Homo sapiens: one gene and its partners. The protein of the gene in region 1 purifies or fractionates together with the protein of each later gene. This does not show direct contact. Each region holds a gene or a part of one and is shown on either strand. Other genes may lie near its edges.

Region 1 (5,525 bases):
AAGGTGTTCAGTTTATTATTAATATCATCTTAACAGAGCCAATTTAGTTTGGTGAAAAGAGTGCTGGATCAGGAACCAAGAAAGAGAGGGTCCCTTCGTTAACACTCAGTTTCACGACATTTGCTCTATGGGTGTATTGGGTGCACTATTATTTATCTGGTATTTTCATTATGTTGACTCTCCTTTAACAAATGGATTTATAGAGATATAACTGACATATAATAAACTTGCACATATTTTATTTTATTTTATTTGTTGTTAATTTTTTGAGGCAGAGTCTTGCTCTGCTGCCCAGGCTGTGGTGCAATGGCATGATCATAGCTCACTGCAGCCTCAACCTTCTGGGCTCAAGTCATCCTCCTGCCTCAGCTTCCTGAGTAGCTGGGATGCGTGCTACCACACTTGGCTAATTCTTAATTTTTTTTGCAGAGACAGGGTCTCACTATGTTACCCAGGCTGGTCTTGAACTCCTGAGCCCAAGTAATCCTCCTGCCTTGGCTTCCCAAAGTGCTGGGATTACAGTCATGAGCCACTACACCCGGCCAACTGTGCATATTTTAAAGTACAATTAATATGCTTTGGCATTATATATAACATCTGTGAAACCATTGCCACAATCAAGATAATTTTTTAAAACTCAAATTTATTTAAAAGGAAACCTTTATATCATTAGGGTTTTTTTGTTGTTGTTGTTAATTATGTTTTCGAAATCAGTTGGGAACAAATACATATTTAAAAATATTTATCCATGTGCCACCCAGAATTACCTTGTCTATCTTGTATCACACTATGAGAAGCACTACCTTAAGAAATTTGTATCTCTTCTTTGGGCCATAGGTTCTTATTTTGAAAAGTAAGATAGTTGGATACTTTTCTTCCTAGGCATTTTGTTATTTATACAATGAACTCAAACCTGAAAGATATAGAAACTATGGTTTTGTTTGACAGTGAAGGTACTTACCAGGAAGGGAGGGATTTTTGTGTGTCCAGGACCCACTAAAACAGTGCCTACCACATAGTAAACATTCAAAAGTAGTTGTTGAATGAATGAAGGATAAATATCAATTAGGAATGAAATTATCTCTGAGAATTAGGCTCTCAGTCAATGAGAAAAAATAATATGACATCACTTTTTTAAAGGAATACCTGTTACATTTATTTCCTCATAGAACTGTCATAAAATCAGCTCCTGGAACTCTATAATATTCTTTAAATAATCCAGAAAGAGTTAAGGAAACATATCCAACTAGGTACAAAGCAAACTTTGTATGGTGTTTGTTTATCTTTCCGTGGTATACATTTCAGGACTGTTAATGTCTCTTAAAATAGTGTGGGAAGGGGAAAATAGGCAAAGCTCAAACAGTTAGATGGGTGCTCTTTAATATTTATTTCTTTAAAAGGATTGGTAGGAGAGGAAGATGAAAGTATGAAAAGGAAGCTATGGGTGTGTTTACTAATAACCATAACTTCTCCAAGCTCTCCCAGTGGGCCATTAACTCACTAAGAGTTGACTGTAAATTCCTTTGATATTTTTTAGGAAATAGTTCCATTTGAAACAGTACTATATTGAGGAGTTTTGGAACTCTTGATCTGGTGTGATGGTCTTTGTGTTGATGTAAAAATTTACTTCTCATCTCTTCTTTTTCTTTTCTTAGCTTCACTATAACGTGACTACAACTAGATTAGTGAATCCAGATCAACTGTTGAATGAAATAATGTCTATTCTTCCAAAGAAGCATGTTGACTTTGTACAAAAGGGGTAAGAAGCACATTTACAAGCTGTTGCATTTATTAGTATCTTTTGGACTTTGAGAAAATAGGAGTTGGTTGGGCGCGGTGGCTCACGCCTGTAATCCCAGCACTTTGGGAGGCTGAGGTGGGCAGATCACTTGAGGCCAAGAGTTCAAGTTCAGCCTGGCCAACATGGAGAAGCCCTGTCTCTACTGAAAATACAAACAATTAGCTGGGCATGGTGGCACATGCCTGTAGTTCCAGCTACGTGGGAGGCTGAGGCATGAGAATCACTTGAACCTGGGTGGAGGCTGCAATGAGCTGAGATCACACCACTGCACTCCAGCATAGGTAACAGAGCGAGACTCTGTCTCAAAAAAAAGAGAAAATAGAAGTTGATCTCCTCACCCCTGTGCTTTAGAAAAAATGTATTTCTCCCACCTCATTCCCAAAAGCTTTTGAGGTAGTGTTATTGCTTATAATTTATTCTCTTTTGTTTGGTTCAAGCTATAAAAGTTTTAGAAGCACAGATATTGTCCCACTTTATTTCAAAATAGGAAAATTCAAAATTCTTCTGGCTTTCTTGTAGATCCTCTATTTTCCTTTGATTGTCTGCTTTACAATAATATTTATAAATTATAATCTAAATTTGTGAGACATTTCAAATGAATCAGGGATTTATACAGAATCCTTCTCTTCATGACTGGCTGTTTTACAGGGCTGGGTTTTCAGTGCTTTAGGAAGTTTTTTCACCTTACCTCTCTCCCGCTGTTGAAGGAACTGCCATCAAAGCCTCCTTGGTTATGATCTCCTGGTCTCAATAGCCAGGCCTCTTCTGGTCACCCAAGATGGCCGTATTTCTAAGCATTTCCATTCAATTATTTCCCTTTAAAATTTCTTTATTAAAGCAACCAGAAGAGACATGCATGGATTTAAACATGTAAATAGAATAGTCAATATAGAGTAAGATTTGAAGAAACAATCTTGTGCAGATATAATTTTTAGTTTTTAGTTATCTGTAAATGTTGGCAAGCATTCCTTCTGTGAACCCTGGCATTCCTCTCAGGCTTCATTAGAACACATCTCTCCCACTCTGATCTCTTCTTCATGCTTGGGGCTATGAGCCTCTGGGCATACCTCTGTCACAGGTCTCTCAATGATCTATTATCTAACATGTGACTAAATTGTTCTATGCCTCATCTTCTTGTCAAGAATCTTAACTTCAGGGTGCTCCTTTTGGCATTTTTGATGTTGACTGCTTATTTTTGAGAGATCAAGCCTCTTTCCCAAAACACATGACTAAGTTAGTAAGAAAAAGAATATTTTGGTACATAACAGTATGAAACAGAAAAAAGTACATAACTGAAACAATGTAACTTCTCCACACATCTGTGGAACAGCACTTAATCAGGAACCCTTAAGTATTTAGGGAATTGAAACTTAAAATCAGTCCTATTTATTGAAGATTGGTAAGACAAACAAAACTCTAAAATAGAATGTAAACTAATTAAATATTATTACATGAATTAAATTTATACAGCTTTGCAGGATCATACGTATGTCTTAAGATGTGTTTCAGGCTTCATTTTGACTGGGCCTTTCCATTCTCAGAGTAGATAATGCGGCAGTTCTATCTATAAATGCCGTACGTTTCAGTTATGGGAATATACCATTTCCTTGGGCTTTTTCTTCTGCTTTTCTTTCTGCCATAAAGTGATGTGATGATCGTCATAAGAGGTTATCTCTCATTACTAATTAGAAAAACCTCAAAAACACACGTGCCTTTCTGACAGGTTACTGGCTTCAGCTTTATTTATATGAAAGACAAGTTTCTGACAAGGCTCACACACATGAAATATTATCTTTCTTGCGCTTTCCTTTGTTGTGAATGTTGTGGAAATGCCCAATGTTTGCGGATTACACGTTGAAAGGATTGCATAAAGAATGCCAGATTTCTTGAGCATGAATGGCATGTATAGCTATGAAACAGGGGCTTTTCTTTGGAGCAAGGGAGACTTGTAATAAAGCCTTTTCATGCTTATTCTTAGGATCCTAGTTCAGTTTCTGGGAAAACACCAGTCATACTCTATTACTAAAGCATAGCTAGGTCATTTGGAAACTGTAAACAGTAATACATTGCTTAATATGAAATAATGGTTCATTTCCTCCACTGGCCTCCTAGAGGCTTAGAAAACTCTTATACAGAATATGGTTCTCCTACTAACTAGCTTCTTATCTTGTTTTTCACAGTTATACACTGAAGTGTCAAACACAGTCAGATTTTGGGAAAGTGACAATGCAATTTGAATTAGAAGTGTGCCAGCTTCAAAAACCCGATGTGGTGGGTATCAGGAGGCAGCGGCTTAAGGGCGATGCCTGGGTTTACAAAAGATTAGTGGAAGACATCCTATCTAGCTGCAAGGTATAATTGATGGATTCTTCCATCCTGCCGGATGAGTGTGGGTGTGATACAGCCTACATAAAGACTGTTATGATCGCTTTGATTTTAAAGTTCATTGGAACTACCAACTTGTTTCTAAAGAGCTATCTTAAGACCAATATCTCTTTGTTTTTAAACAAAAGATATTATTTTGTGTATGAATCTAAATCAAGCCCATCTGTCATTATGTTACTGTCTTTTTTAATCATGTGGTTTTGTATATTAATAATTGTTGACTTTCTTAGATTCACTTCCATATGTGAATGTAAGCTCTTAACTATGTCTCTTTGTAATGTGTAATTTCTTTCTGAAATAAAACCATTTGTGAATATAGCAGGCTTCTCTTTTTTGTATTTGATTTTGATCCAAATAAAACCTCAAATGGCTTCCTGACTATTAAGTAGAGACTATTTGGAGTATGTTTTATCTGTTATCAAATATGCCTTGGGCAGAAAAACAGATAAGAATTCATTTGCATAATTTTTTCCTGTCTGATTTAAGTAGGATTTATTGAGATCGTTAACTGTCACAGCTGTGGTTACCAGAGTTAAACAACACATTTAATATGTTGAATAAAAGAGTATTGACTTTAAGTATGTTTGGTCAACAAATGATAAGTATCCGAACTATGAACCCCCCCTGAAATGTTACTTTATGGTAATTTCCCTAAGTCTCAATGTTGGCCCCAAATTTGTATTTTTATTTCATTTTATTGGTCTCCAAAGGCTAGAACTCAAGTTATATTGGTATGGATTTCACCAATTAAACTAGTTGGAGAAAAAATAGCACTCCTTCTGGTCAGTAGTGAAGGGAATGTTTTGTCATTCATTTATTCAATAAATGTTTACTAAGTGCTTACAAGCATTAGGTCCTCAGGCTGAAGCTGCTACTGTCTAGTAAACCCAAGGATTTACTAACTGTATTTGTAGCATAGCGGGACCCACCCACTTTGCATGGAATTAGAAATGAATTCTTGGAAGAAACAGCATTTGTCATTGAAGGATATATAGGAGTTCAGCAGAAAGAGAAGAGTGAGGAGTATGACTTTTTTTCTTTCTTTCTTTCTTTTTTTTTTGAGACGCAGTCTCACTCTGTCACCCAGGCTGGAGTGCAGTAGCGTGATCTCAGCTCACTGCAGCCTCGACCTCCTGGGCTCAAGCAGTCTTCCCGGTTCAGCCTCCCAAGTAGCTGGTACTACAAGCGTGCGCCACCACACCCAGCAAATTTTTTTACTTTTTGTACAGACAGGGTCTCACTATGCTGCCCAGGCTGATCTCAAAACTCTTGATCTCAAGCAGTCCTCCCACTTCAGCCCTCCAGAGTGCTGGGATTACAGGCATGAGCCACCACCCCA
Region 2 (3,628 bases), on another chromosome or scaffold:
GTTTCGTGGCCTCCTACTTAGAATATGCCTTCCGGAAATGGTGAGGAAATGGTTGAGGGAAAGGGGTGGGGCCTGATACGAGTTTATTTCATTCACTTAAGATATTTATTGAGCTCCTACCATGTGCCCAGGCAGTGTTTTAGGTGCTGAGGATTCAGCAGTGAACAAAACAGACCACAAAACCCTGCTCTTATGGAGCTTATATGCTAGTGGACCATTACCCTCTTGCGCTGTTGCAGTGAACGGGAAAATGGGAAGCAGCGGGCAGCTGGCAGCCCACACCTTACCCTGGAGTTCTGCAACTATCCTTCCAGCATGAGGGACCATATTGATTACCGCTGCTGCCTGCCCCCAGCAACCCACCGTCCTCATCCCACCAGCATCTGTGACAACTTCTCGGTGAGAGCACCCACCTGTTTCTTGGGAGGGAAGGTTCTGATGCCTGGAGCCTCTTTCTAAGCCTCTTTCCCACCCCTAGGCTTATGGCTGGTGCCCCCTGGGACCACAGTGTCCTCAGTCTCACGATATTGACCTTATCATTGACACTGATGAGGCTGCGGCAGAGGACAAGCGGCGACGGCGACGACGTAGGGAAAAACGGAAGAGGGCTTTATTGAACCTACCGGGGACACAGACCTCTGGGGAAGCTAAGGATGGTCCTCCCAAGAAGCAGGTCTGTGGGGATAGCATCAAGCCTGAAGAAACCGAGCAGGAGGTGGCTGCCGATGAAACTAGGAACCTGCCTCACTCCAAGCAAGGCAACAAAAATGACTTAGAGATGGGGATTAAGGCAGCAAGGCCTGAAATAGCTGATAGAGCTACCTCAGAAGTGCCAGGGAGCCAAGCCAGTCCTAACCCAGTGCCTGGGGATGGATTGCACCGGGCTGGTTTTGATGCCTTTATGACAGGTTATGTGATGGCCTATGTGGAAGTGAGCCAGGGACCGCAGCCCTGCAGCTCTGGACCCTGGCTCCCTGAATGCCACAATAAGGTATATTTGAGTGGCAAAGCTGTACCCCTCACAGTGGCCAAGAGCCAGTTCTCTCGTTCCTCCAAAGCCCACAATCAGAAGATGAAGCTCACTTGGGGCAGTAGCTGATGCAACTTCCACCTTGCTCTCAGGTGGAACAGAGGTATTTTGGGTCTCTCTAGCCTGAAATGTCATCCTCAACTGCTACTGAGTTTAGGGGAGGGGGAATGTCTTGACAGACATCACTGCATTGCCCTGGACCGCCTCCTTTATCCCAGTGTTTGAGGTACAAGTAAGAAGGCTGACCAGCACCTGTAACACTGACTTTATTTTTAAGTCTGAAAATGTCTTGGGAAAGTTTTACAAAAAAAAAAATCAACAGAAGCAAGTTATGAAAATATTTGACCAGCTTCATCTTTGGTTATTTCTTATTGCAGCTCTGTAAGGACAGACTGTTCCCAAAGCTCCAGCCATGGCAGGAAGGGAAGCAAATCAGTCCCTGTATAAACCATTTAACCAATTGAATGTATCACATGTTGATAAATACATAGAAGCAGGCCCTAGGGCCTACAAAACCAGCCCCACTCCCAACCACAAGGTTGAAAGTCTTATGGGGCAGAACATTAAGACTCCTTTATAAATATGAAAATAGATTAATCAACAGGAAAAGGTCTTTGAATAGGTTAGCTAAGAGCCATGACCACCACGCTGCCTTGCTGTCCCCTTGCATAGAAATGTAGTGACGTGGTCTGACCATGCAGTAAGTGCAAACAGCAATTACTCAAATGTCTTAGAATACTGGCAAGAAGCACCCCAATATTCAGGTCTGGGAAACAGCCATGACCATTACGGCCTCTTGATCAGCTCCATGTTCCACTCAGTAGCTTATATGCCCCAAGAAAAGGCAAGAGACAGACCTGGGGTGGGGAAAGAACCGGGGTAATAGCTGCCTGCCAGCTCAGCCTAGAACTAGACATCCTCTGGTCCTATCTGGGGAAGTACACTGGAGAGGGTCTGGTGGGAGGCAGACCTCCTTGCTGGATTTCAGAGGCTTGGTATCAGCTGTTGGCCCTAACTAGGAAGGCCTCTCACTGCTGCCTCCCGTCATACACAGCCAATGGGCACTGGGAGCCCAGAAGTTGAGCCTGGCTTGGCCTAGCCTGCCTGCTCTGTAGGCTCCAGGGAAGAATCAAGGCTGTGCACCTAGGGGGCCATATGGTTTCAGCTGAAGGTCCATCCCCAAGGTGAGGCAGGGACTAAACCCCCTCACCCATCCTGCTTTCCCTGGGTTTGCAGGCCTATGCCTGAGGTGGAGAAGGTGGCTGGAGTTGAGCCTGCTGGCCTTTCTTCTACCTCCATCTCCTCAGAAGCACCCGCAGGGCATGGACTGGTCCCCTGGGGCCTGGACCCAAAACCATTTTCTTCCTGGAGAATGGAGCAGTCCATAGCCTCATGGGCTTGAGCAGCTGGTAGGGCAGATGCCCGGAATGGTGGGATCTCTTTAACTCTGTACTTGAGACTACTTAGGCGTGGTGGGGGCCCATCAGATAGCGATTCTTCCCGGCCCACAAATGGACAAGCCTCTTGATGCAAGAACTCAGGCGAACCAGGCAAGGAACGCCACCGGCGAATAGGTGGGGCCAGGGGCTCCTGCCAGTCAGCCAGGGGCATAGTTCCGGGCCCTGGTGCATCCAGGTCAAATACCAGAGAGATGACAGACTTGCTGGGCAGGTCAAAAAACTTGATCTTGCCCCCCATGAGGTCCTGGCGAGCACTAAAAGGGTTGACTTTGGGGGTGCGGGCAGCACCATCTCGTGGCCGGTAGTATGGGTCCAAGACACTCACTGTACGTGGGGGCTTACGGGAAAAGATATCTGACTGGCTTCGAGACAGCCAGATGGTACGTCTTGGGCATGGTGACTTGTGGGGGATCTTGTCATCCAGTGAGCTTAGTCGCTTCACCCCAGGTGCTTTCTCCAAGAGTCCTGAAGAATAATCAAGTCTGGGTTACTCTCACTAGTCATAACAAATACAAGCAGCATTTTACCACAGAATGTTTTCACTCATGAAAGCAAAGCTGATACCATGGCCCTGTTTTACCAATGAAGAAACAGACTCAGAGAGGGGAAGCAGTATGCCAAGCCACAGCTCTTAAAAAGGCCAGTACTTTCTGCATCATCTCCTTCCCCTCCCATTTGTTTCTGGACCTGGGATCCTGGCAATCACAACCCTAAGAGGAGAAGGCCCCACATCCGAATTTCCTCCCTTAGGGTTAGGTTGGGCTCCCTGGTCTAATCTCTTACCCCTGGCTGTGGGCTGCAGCTTCCTATCCCTCTCCTGCTCTTCTTCCTGTAGGCGGCTCAGAATTTCCTCCAGGGTCTTCCCAATCTCCACAAAAGATGGGCGCAGTTTGGGATCCATCTGTAGGTATCCACAACAGCCATGAGCTCTGCCCTCCATCTCCCACCCCAAAGATGGCATTTGAGTCTATTTCTGGCATCTTTGAAGATTCAGATGTGCAGCTGAGAGACCTTTTCTAAAGGCCCCAGACAATGAAGGTGATCCCTACAGTTCAGGTCAGGGAAAACACTACTGTCTACTACCCTCCCTGTCTTAGTGTTTGTCTTATCACCTTGTCACAGAACCTTCCAAAAGTAT
Region 3 (4,737 bases), on another chromosome or scaffold:
GAGATCGCGCCACTGCACTCCAGCCTGGGCAACAAAGCAAGACTCTGTCTCAAAAAAAATAATAATAATAAAATTAAAAAAAAGTAATGTTCTATTATGCAAGTATCACACCTCCCCCCCAAAAAAAGTATGCTCTGAAGTTTTTCCAGCTTATAAGAGCAATGTGGATTTTTTTCAGAGTAGAACTTGAGCAATGTGTTTTTAATGTAGAAAAAATTTTAGAACTTTTAAAAAACCACAAAGTTAAAAAAAAAAAAGCCCCTATACATTTCCCCGAGGGAGACATATCTACTGGTTATCTAATCAATTTAGGTTTACTGGCTTAATTTTTCAAATGTTCTACTTAAAACTGAAGAGAACTTTGAAATACATTGATGTTTCATTAACATCTTGCCTACAATCATTTTCTAAGAAAAAAATTTAAATAATAAAACAAACATTTGAGAATTCTTACGGTCAAAATGCGTGTGTGTGTTTTTTTTTAATTGAGACAGAGTCTCTTTCTGTCGCCCAGGCTGGGGTGCAGTGGCCCAATCTCGGCTCACTGCAACCTCCGCCTGGGTTCAAGTGATTCTCCTGCCTCAGCCCCCCAAGCAGCTGGGATTACAGGCGCCTGCCACCACGCCTGGCTGATTTTTGTATTTTTAATAGAGATGGGGTTTCATCATATTGGCCAGGCTGGTCTCGAACTCCTGACCTCAGGTGATCCGCCCACCTTGTCCTCCCAAAGTGCTGGGATTACAGGCATGAGCCACCATGCCCGGCCATCTTACAGTCAAAATTAAAGGCCCTCCTACCTTATATTCAGCCAGCCAGTGAATAAATACAAAAATCCCATTTGTGACCTGTGTGGGTAGTGGCTTTCCTGGGGGAGAATGCTGGACCTGGGACTATAATAGCAACGGGCAATATGGTGCAGCTACCATAACTTAGCCCTCTTGCAAAACTGGAAATAAGAAAAAAATTCACCAGAGAAGAGTTCACAGAATGGACAGGACTTTAAACAACTTTTCAAATACCAAAAAATAGTCTGTTGCACGAAAGACTACAGAGTCAGCCTAACTAAGGAGAGATGCCAGGCGACATGAGTTCTTCCAGGCGTTGACATGGCTGCCCCAGTGCAGAGCCACACCTTTCAACAAAGCCCAAAAGAGGTTACGGAGAAAAGGGCTGCGGTCATGCTTACTGGGGAAAAATCTTTCAGGTTTCTGCTTTTTTCAACTTATACACTATAAAATCAAAGAGGATCTTGTACTTCTCAGCCTTCAAGGAGAAACTAGGCCCTGAACCTTCTCCTTGTGACTGGCCTTCCTCTTCGGTTTTTGGTGAGTCCTACTGTACCCAGACTTTGCCCTACAAATACTAGTGTTCTAATTAAGTAAAAATTTTCAAAATACACACAGAGTATACAAAAACAATGATCTGTAAAGTAACGATCATATCATATTTACAATACCTTTCTCAAAATACTAAGAATCATATTTGCCAAATATCTAACCCTGTACAAAACGCTGACCTTGATGCTATGATGTCATAGGGAAAGATGTAATCCTTGCTATCAAATTAGAATAATATCCGCCTGTAATCCCAGCACTTTGGGAGGCCAAAGCAGGTGGATCACTTGAGGTCAGGAGTTTGAGACCAGCCTGGCCAACACAGCAAAACCCCATCTCTACTAAAAATACAAAAATTAGTCCAGCGTGGTGGCACACACCTGTAATCCCAGATACTGAGGAGGCTGAGGCAGGAGAATCGCTTGAACCCAGGAGGCAGATGCTGCAGTGACCCAGGATCACACCACTGCATTCCAGCCTGGGTGACAGAGTAAGACTCCCTCTCAAACAAAAAAAAGAAAAATAGAATATCCAAGATGGATTGATTAAAGTTTTGCTGTGTTGACTACCGCAGGCTAAACAGAACACACGGATCCACAAAAAATTCATCTGAATAGAAAATTCTACCTAATCCATCAAAAATTATGTATGAATGTGATCAAGAGCTAGAAAAGAACCTCAAAAAAAAAAAAAAAAGATGAAGGAAAAAAACCCAACTGAATGGCAAAGATAGAAGATTGTGATGGGACTTTCCCCCTACATTTTATTAAATTTATTATACCAAAAAAAGTATGATCCTGAATATATACATGACACCATGACACAACTAATGAGCAGTTTTACAGAGCAAGCTATTCCAAGTAGAAAATAACATAAGCAAAATGAACACCTAACTTGTGGAGAAGGGGTTGTAGAGTGGTAGCATAAGGAAGGAAAAAAAGACATTCGGGGAAGATTAATCAGAAAAGACTTCTAAGAAAGAATTTAAACAGATTTGAAGGAAGAAAGTTGAGTGAAATGAACTGTCAGGGCCAGGTGAGATGCAGAGTATATTCCCCTAGCAGATAAAATATACATACACTCAAAGGTAGAGAATGGAAAAGGAAGTCAATTCTACCCAAAAGCATGGAGGACAAAGGATCTGGACTTGGGGCAGGCACAGACAGGGATCTGAAGCTTAAATAACACCAGGAAATATCAGGCGATCTTATCCAATGAGATCTTTGTTTTTTTCAAGGAACGGCAACCTCACCTTCCTGTTGGCATCCAGGCTGGAGGCTGGAATCTGTAGGGTAACTTTGTATTCTGTTCTTTTATCCAGCTCCTCAGCAATGTAATTAGCTTCTCTCACCAATAGATTGGCCTTAACAATTTGTTCCCTCAGCCTCATCAGGCTGTTATTCAACGTTGCTTCTCTAAAAAAAAATAAAGAAGCGGCAGAGGTAGGGAAGAGATTAACACAAAGCAGCTAGTCAGAAAATCATACAGTGGTAGTACATCATTGCCAAAGTGTGAATTGAGCTTTTTCCGTGGTCGTCTGCACGCAGGGACTGTGTTGCTGACACTGACCCATGCACACGCTTGAACCTCAACTACACGATAAGCACTGGAAAGCAGCCACACAGCAAGCCGGCTGTAGATAACAGCAGTGCCCCTGTATGCAGATCACCAGGGGATCTTCATCAACTCAAGATTCTGTCTCAGCAGGTCTGAGGTGGAGGCCTGAAATCCTACATTTCTATCAATCTCCAGGTAAAAGGGAAGCTGCCTGCCTGCAGACCAAACTTTAAATAGTATGAGGTTAGTGAAGTACAGTCTGCAACCATGGGATAAGGCATTTCAATGCAATGCTAATTAGCCCATACAGAGATCAAATTTGCAATCTGCATCTCATCAGCACCATGCTTTACCTACCTGAGCTAATCAGTCCAGATAACCAACTTTGTTTTTCTAAAAATCATCTACCCAAGCTTCAGAACCTAAAGCATAATACAATGATCAAGTGTACTTCTATATCCAAATCCAAAAGCCATACCAACTGAAAATGGAGCAACACCTAACACCAACAGTTTTAAATAATGCAATATAAATGGGCAATTCCCCTTTTAAAAACAAATGCAAAGTGGTTCTTGGCTGTTAACACTTATCTTTTAACATAATTCTTTTGTAAGCACCATCTTAATGTTCCCATTTGACACTTTCCCTAGGTGTGTTAGAGGTGGCAAGCCTGAGCTATAAAGTTAACAGGCCCCTCTGTGCCGCCTACCTCTCCTCAGCCCACTGTCTTAAGCGTTGCTGAGCGCTGGGCGAGTGGAAAGAAAACCTGTCCATGCTCCGGCAGTTCTGCTTCTCAGGAGACAGCCTTCTCCGGAGCTGCTCCAATTCGTGCTCATACATAAGCCTCTGGCGCTCCAGTGCAGATCGTTTTTCTTCTTCATGCTGTTGTTCTAAGCTGTTTAATATGGACTGCATCGGATCTAAACACATTTTTAAAAAAGATACATGATCGAGAGTTACAACATAATAAACTTCAAATGTTGTTCTATATGGTAATGTTGTCTGTCATCTTAACTATACCACCTAATACTTTAAAGACAATTTGGCATAAACTTAGCTTTCCTGACTTTCAATCACTCATGTTGTTATATATTCTCAGACATATCCTCAACCATCTTCCCTGCAGAAAAAGCAGGTCTATTATATGTTCTACACATAACCTAAGACATGGCGAATCCTCCAGAAATACAATCATAAGCCAATGACAGGCAAGTTTCTAAAGCAGAGAAATTTGACCGGGCACAGTGGCTCACACCTGTAATCCCAGCATTTTGGGAGGCCGAGGTGGGCGGATCACCTGAGGTCAGGAGTTTGAGACCAGCCTGGCCGACATGGCGAAACCTTGTCTCTATTGAAAATACAAAAGTGAGCCAGGCATGGTGGTGTGCACGCCTGTCATCCCAGCTACTCAGGAGGCTGAGGCAGGAGAATCGAATCACTTGAACCCAGGAGGCAGAGGTTGCAGGGAGCCGAGATCGTGCCACTGCACCCTAGCCTGGGCGACAGAGCGAGACTCTCTCACAAAAAATTAAAATAAAATAAACAAGAGAGATTCTATCCATCAGATCAAAGTGATCTGACTGCATATTAAGGCAGAACATTTTGATAAATATAAATTAAAGCCAAAGACACAAAATACAGAGAATAGCAACATAAAGATTTTCCTTTTTGTTAACATTTGAAAGTCCCCAATCATAAACATTTTTAACACTCTACCGTTTTTTTTTTTTTAAAGAGAGAACGTCTTGCTATGTTGCCCAGGCTAAAGAGCAGTGGTTATTCACGGGCACAGTCTCAGCTCACTGCAGCCTGGAACTCCTGGGCTCAAGCGATCTCCCCACCTCAG

The links. The genes of interacting proteins can lie anywhere in the genome.
Region 2: the proteins of MELK (region 1) and TESK2 purify together in Homo sapiens (affinity purification with mass spectrometry, with the first as the bait; one large-scale study listed by BioGRID). This does not show direct contact.
Region 3: the proteins of MELK (region 1) and KIF13B purify together in Homo sapiens (affinity purification with mass spectrometry, with the first as the bait; one large-scale study listed by BioGRID). This does not show direct contact.

What each region holds. Positions count from the first base shown.
Region 1 is NC_000009.12:36,673,179-36,678,703, forward strand, and holds the end of MELK (maternal embryonic leucine zipper kinase), read left to right. Parts: intron 1-1,655; coding exon 1,656-1,759; intron 1,760-3,981; coding exon 3,982-4,159; 3' UTR 4,160-4,504; downstream 4,505-5,525. UniProt on the Homo sapiens protein: Serine/threonine-protein kinase involved in various processes such as cell cycle regulation, self-renewal of stem cells, apoptosis and splicing regulation. Has a broad substrate specificity; phosphorylates BCL2L14, CDC25B, MAP3K5/ASK1 and ZNF622.
Region 2 is NC_000001.11:45,342,604-45,346,231, forward strand, and holds the end of TESK2 (dual specificity testis-specific protein kinase 2), read right to left. Parts: intron 3,392-3,628; coding exon 3,274-3,391; intron 2,956-3,273; coding exon 2,237-2,955; 3' UTR 1,280-2,236; downstream 1-1,279. Other genes in the region: TOE1 (target of EGR1 protein 1), read left to right, coding at 1-40, 240-399, 479-1,099. UniProt on the Homo sapiens protein: Dual specificity protein kinase activity catalyzing autophosphorylation and phosphorylation of exogenous substrates on both serine/threonine and tyrosine residues. Phosphorylates cofilin at 'Ser-3'. May play an important role in spermatogenesis.
Region 3 is NC_000008.11:29,143,792-29,148,528, forward strand, and holds part of KIF13B (kinesin-like protein KIF13B), read right to left. Parts: intron 3,812-4,737; coding exon 3,601-3,811; intron 2,750-3,600; coding exon 2,587-2,749; intron 1-2,586. UniProt on the Homo sapiens protein: Involved in reorganization of the cortical cytoskeleton. Regulates axon formation by promoting the formation of extra axons. May be functionally important for the intracellular trafficking of MAGUKs and associated protein complexes.